Regions from separate parts of the Homo sapiens genome. Here region 2 is linked to region 1. A link means that fine-mapping ties the variant in region 1 to the expression of a gene that starts in the linked region. Tissue or cell type: whole blood. Region 1 holds a variant in brackets; the other region holds the start of a gene. All regions are shown on one strand. Distances are between the middles of the regions. Region 1 overlaps CRYBG3 (crystallin beta-gamma domain containing 3). Region 2 holds the start of RIOX2 (ribosomal oxygenase 2).

Region 1 (2,915 bases):
AGGACTCTGACACAGCATATCTTTTTCTGCACTGGATTACATTACAATATCTGTACAGTTTTAATTTAACTATTTGTTAGTAATTCCCCAGACACAAGGATAGATGGTGCCTTGTTTTATCATCCCCCCAAAAGTCTCTTAACATGGTGTCTTGCATACATTAATGAATGAAAAAGCAATACTGAGTCTATTCTTGTCTGACATGATGGGTTGAAGAAATACTTTTAATGCAGAAATCACCACCATTCTTGTGCATTTCAGCTTTTTTTAAATTAAAAATGCCTTTATTCTTCCTCCTAGGAATATTTTTAAGAGCTTACCACCACAGAGTCTTACATTCCTAGTGACTGCTCCTGTGACCTCCTAGAAATTAGGGTGCCATTCCATTCCATATTTATTCTGTTGCCAGCTAAAAGCATTGGCAGGACTAATTATGGTCCATATTACAGTACCACAAGACCTTAATCTGTGATTTGGAATCATGGGTCTCTTTATTATGGCTGTTTTTATTATGAGATTGATTGCTTTTCTGATAACTTGAATTTTAGTTTACAAAAAAGTGAACAAAAATTATTAATAAAATCTAATCTTTCCAGTGCAGTTTTGACTATAGCAACCTTAGAGAGTAAAACAGTAAACTCCATGCATTTAAGAATACAATGGATTCAGGGTACCCTGTGTTCAGACTGGGATGTCACTGAGATATGGCCACTCCTATGGTGACGCTTTCTTTTTCTGCTAATAGGTTTTTGAAGAACCCTCCATCAGCCTTTTTGCTCTGGAGCATTGTGAGGGAAGAGAGTTACATCTAGAAGAGGCTGTGAACTCTGTTCTGAACAAGGACCTACACTTCTACACCCAGTCTGTGTGGGTAAAAAGTGGACTGTAAGTATGGGAAAAAGGCTTGGTCTGGTTCAGTTACTGTTTTAAGACAGAGTTGCAGAGTTGCAAACCAAGTCCACTGTGTAGTAGTACGCATTCAAGTGGTCTTGAGGAAGAGCCCTTTGGAAGAGAAGGGCTACCATATGGTCACAGCATGTGTCATAGAGTAGGTCAATCAAATGACTTTACCCAGTTGAACTTTCTTTTCAGAAGAAATTTCAATATCCCAGCAACTTTGGTTAAGACAATTTCCTGCTTAAGGCAAGTGACTGCTGGCAAGACCAAGTTCGATGTTGTTTTTTGATTTAATAGCCATGTATTCTAGAGCAGTTCCTCCAGGGTACTCACTTGCCTGTGGACTACACTGGTTGGCCTAGCCTGCCTACCAGTATTGTTGTTCATTTAGGTTATCAGTCAGTCAGGGTAGACCCAGGGGCCTGTGCTTTTACAAATTAGAAAGCTGCCTTTAAGAAAAAATTTAAAATTATGATAGAAATATTAGATATCAATGTGAATACTTAGGACAGAAATGGTGAGAAGCCTGTAAGTGAGGGGCCTTGAAGTTGAAGCTCTGTTTGCTTCCTGGAAAATCTGCCTCTGAATCCAGTTCTGAAGAGTCCGGCATATAAACCAGCCCCTACTCCTGCACTGTTAGTGTTCTGGTAGCAAAAGTCAACTAAAAAAACACACATAGCTCTTGACGGTTAATAAAAAAATGGCTTTAAAAGTTTTTCTATGGCTTTGAAATTCCGTGATAATCAACTGTGCTGGTTTAAATATCTGGGGATAAAGAGAAAGCCAATAATATAAGTGGAGGTGAAAATTAAGCAAACTATTATAATAAATGGCTTTTATATTATACACTTGTA[TA/T]AATAGCTTAAGTTTTCTTCTGCAAAACATTTTAAATGGTTTGATGTTTATTCAGACAAATTGATTTATTCTATCTAAGCATAAGATTCCAATATATTATTTACCAATTAACTAAATTTTACATCCCTGTGATATAGGTCTTTCACAACATTTTAATTCATTTCTTCCCATTTCTGAGTGAAATTGATACTTGACTCACTTCTGAAAATTTCTCACTTTCTTATTTCATTTTTTTCTGGAACACTGGTGCCATTTTATCTTGACATTCTTATTTCTTCTCTTTGGCTTATTAGCCACCTACTCTCACTATTCCAAATTCTCTTTAAGAGAATTGGAACATGGAGTAAGGAACAGTGAAGGCTGCCTAAGGATTTTCCTAGGTTACAGAATACTACTTAATGTACAGCCAGCTTCCCTTAGTTACAAGTTGGGTTTGTTTTAATCCCCATGCTATGCCACATCTTTGATCTGTGATGATGACAGCCATGCTTAAATGCACCATCCCACACAGTTTTCCAACTGTGGAATTCATTTAAATCAATATATAATTAGGTACATTTTCCTAAAATCTTACCTAGATTTTATAACTGAAACTTCCCTGACAGTTTAAAGAATCTGCAGCGGGAGAGGCAGCTAAGCCTGTCCGTGGTCATGCTGACCTGCCTCTCCACCAGTCTGATTGATTAGATTTGTGTAGGAAGGAGGGGTCAAGAATGGGCCATCCATCTCATTCATCTCTCCATAATTTGGTCAAGTCTGATCTTGGTTGTGGGGAGCAAGGAGGACTTTTCTTAGTGGTGGTCAGGTTGAGTCAGTCATCCCTACCCAAGCTTTCATAGCTGTAATACATCAAGCTTTCCTCAGCTCTCCCCTTCTCCCCACAACTTATGCTCAAGTTGGTATCTTTTCCTGCATTACCTGAAGAACAAGTCCCTAAGGAATATTGCACTTTGTGAATTTTAGAAGTTTTTAATCTGGAAAATCGAGGGGCTGAAGTTGCTGCCATAGCAGCACAAGCAACCCTCTGTAGCTTGTGTCCTAAGCCCTGGATGACCCTGTTCCTGAGCTCTGGTCCATCTGATAAGCAGACTACCTTGCCTGCTGCTGGTGCTCTTTGCTTCATCCACAAGGCTTTACCTCCCTTGGTGCAAGCCAGGACAACC
Region 2 (2,915 bases), 38 kb after region 1:
CTTGAAGGAAAGGATTTGTATATCCCCGGAAACAAGCACGGTGTGGTACATAGGAGGTCCTCAAGAAATGTCTGCTGAATTTTTCACATTTTCATCTTTTGTCTGTATACAATTTTGGAGACAAACCACAAAGGCCTTACACAAAACAGTTACGGAAAAAACAGATGGCCTGTGCAGAGGGGATTATTTTTCTGATTGCAGCTGTCACTTCAGGATTCAAGAGTATCGTAAAAGCTAAAAGGCACTTTAGACATCAGTAGTTATTACTAAATCGGGGAGGGAAGTATGAATTTCTACATCCCCTGGGCAGTTTTACAGAATGTAGTTCAGAGTTACCAGCAAGGTTGTTAGCATGCAAATTTCTGGGCCCTCATCAAGCCCACTGGATTGCCACTTCTGATGGCTGAGGCCCATAATCTGCATTAACGTAATACGCTCTCTAGATGAATTTTAGGTCCACTAATGGAGGACAACAGTCAAACGCAGCTCAGTTAAACACACGGCTGTCAGAAATTATATATTGCTTGTAACAAGGTTGCCCAGACTGATCTAAAACATTTCTTTTTGGCTCAGAGATATGTTAATCAATCCAGAGGGAAAACTGGTTCTCCTATTGACCTAAAGGAGTGATCAGCAGTTATCTTTTTAGTCTGATTTTAGAGAGGAAACGGACTATACCTCAATGTATTTTCGTGACCATGAGGTTACAAAGCTTGATGTCCAGGAGGCAAAAACCAGTACCAGCAGAAGAAGCTGAGTAAATCAGGTTCCTCTGCTCAAAGATGAGCCCAGTGACATGAAACCCGAGGCACCAGATTTACAGCTAATGAGTGGCGAAATCAGATCCTCTTCCTCCCAGTCTATCCTTCCTGAAAACAGTGAATAACCTGGTCTCAGTAACCTGTTGGACAACCCAGCTGTCGGCCAATCGTTGCGGAATTATTTGCTGGTAAATGAATTGGAAGCATATGATGTAATGCAGCTGCCCTTCTCCCCACACACCTGAACTTCAGATTTCACAGCTGTAGAGCGTGTCTCTTAGGCCCGACATGACGCCCGGCGGCGCAGCCCACGTGGAAGCCGTGCTCGCACAGGCAGTTCTGCCACCACCGGGCGGAGGCCGGCACCACCCTCCTTGCTAAGCCTCCAAACTTTCCGTGCGCTCGTCACCGGTGTCGCGACCATTAGCAGGCCACGTGTGCGACTCTCTGTAACCAAGGCTTCCGCGACCCTACCCCTAGATCCGGGCCCCACCCACCCTGCCCCAGTCTCCGGGGAGGTGGGACGCCTGGGAGCGCGTCCCAGGTCCCGCAACCACAGCGCCGGCCACCGAGGCTTCTCGCCGACCGACAGGTCTCCCAGACCCGCACCCGAGCCCGGGTGCCTAAAGCAGCAGCGCGCGCCCCGCGGGATCGGGCACTACCCGGCCTGCCCCGGCGCTGGGATGCCCACGAGAGCGCCCCACTCACCCGGCACGGCCTGTTGCTCGCGGCCGCGAGCCCACTGCGTTGCGGCGCAGCGGCTGGAGGCGGGGCAGCGTGGGCACGCTCCGGGCCGTGCTCCAGCCCCCGCCCCGCCCCGCCACGCCGGCCCGCAAGTGGTGGCAGCCCGGAGGCCTGGCTACCCGGCGGTGTTCCGCGTTCACGCCCGGGCGTTTCTTTAGTCCATATGGAAGGAAATAAATGGCCTTTTTTTTCCTCTTTTTTTTTTTTTTTTTTTTTTTTTTTTTTTTTTTATGGTATGTGAGACAAGGTCTCACTCTCGCCCAGGCTGGAGTGCAGTGGTAGCGATCTTGGCTCACTGCAACCTTTACCTCCCGGGCTCAAGCGATCCTCCTGCCTCGGCCTCCCAAAGTGCTGGATTATAGGTGTGAGCCACCCACCCGGCTCTCCTTTTTTTTCTTTTAACTTGGGGCGGCAGGAGAGGATTTGAGAGAGCGTTTTGGTGCAACTCCGTTCCTTTTATGAATAGAGAAGCAGGCCTGAAGAGGAATACCAGCGGTGCAAGTTTAGGGAGTTGGTGGTCCGGGTTCTCCCATGGCTTTCTTATGGGCTGTGTGGCTACACAATGCTGATTTGTACAAGCCGAGTGTCATTTATATCATCTCGCTCCGGGAGAGAGAGTCAATCCTAGTTTTAAAAGATACTGGAAATTCGTTGCGACTATGGCTATAGAAACAGAAGAAATGCAGTTATCTGAGTCCTTTCAGCCTAACACTCCCTGCTTTGGAACATTTGGTTCCAGTCAGGAGGCACAAATGAGGGAGCAGGGAAATCAGTGGCGGGCCTGTGCCTTTCTTTGCTCTGTAGACAGCCAGAGGACCCAGAGGAAGTCGACATTTCGTTCCGTCAAGGTGACTGAGACCAGTGGCTGCTTCTAAGGATCAAGTGGCACATGAACAAATGGGAACAAAGTACACCCTTGTCTAGTATTTGTCTAAAACTAACAATAATAGCAAGTCTTGAATTGAGTTCTTCCTGGCTATAAGGCACCACGCTAGGTGTTTCAAATACTCCTCACTTCATCCTCACTACAACCTTGCAATTACCTCCATTTTACAGTTGAGGAAACTGAGTCAGGAGAGGTTAACTAACTTGCACAAGATCACACAGCTAGGAAGATGCAGAAACAAGATTAGAGCCAAACCAGTCAGTCAACTGTTGGTCTTTTTCACGTTTTACTAATACTCGTATAACTAGTAAGTTTCCTGGCAGGTTCCAGTTGGAAAAACTCGAGGGTAACATCAAATTTAGCCCTTACAGGGTAAAAAAGAATAGTCAACAGCAAAAATCTCTAGTTGATATGATATTGGTAATGTACTTCGCTCTTTATTTTGACTGCAAGACATCTACTCAAGATAATATAGAATAATATTGCTGTTCCCGGGATTCAGATAAAGGTAAATTCTCACACGT

What was found.
Region 2: it holds the start of RIOX2, and the variant in region 1 is fine-mapped to the expression of RIOX2 in whole blood (INTERVAL, PIP 0.94).

Annotation. Positions count from the first base shown.
Region 1 is chr3:97,932,949-97,935,863 of GRCh38, forward strand. It overlaps CRYBG3 (crystallin beta-gamma domain containing 3), which reads left to right. Exons shown (of 22, transcript NM_153605.4): 18 at 746-885. Among named protein-coding and RNA genes, the nearest start is that of RIOX2, 38 kb to the right of the region's middle. The variant TA/T (reference allele first, on the strand shown) is at 1,752.
Region 2 is chr3:97,970,912-97,973,826 of GRCh38, forward strand. RIOX2 (ribosomal oxygenase 2) reads right to left here and starts at 1,520. Exons shown (of 10, transcript NM_153182.4): 1 at 1,470-1,520. It overlaps LOC124909398 (a long non-coding RNA gene), which reads left to right and starts at 1,742. Exons shown (of 2, transcript XR_007095976.1): 1 at 1,742-2,899. RefSeq lists an enhancer at 735-994 and a silencer at 1,265-1,704.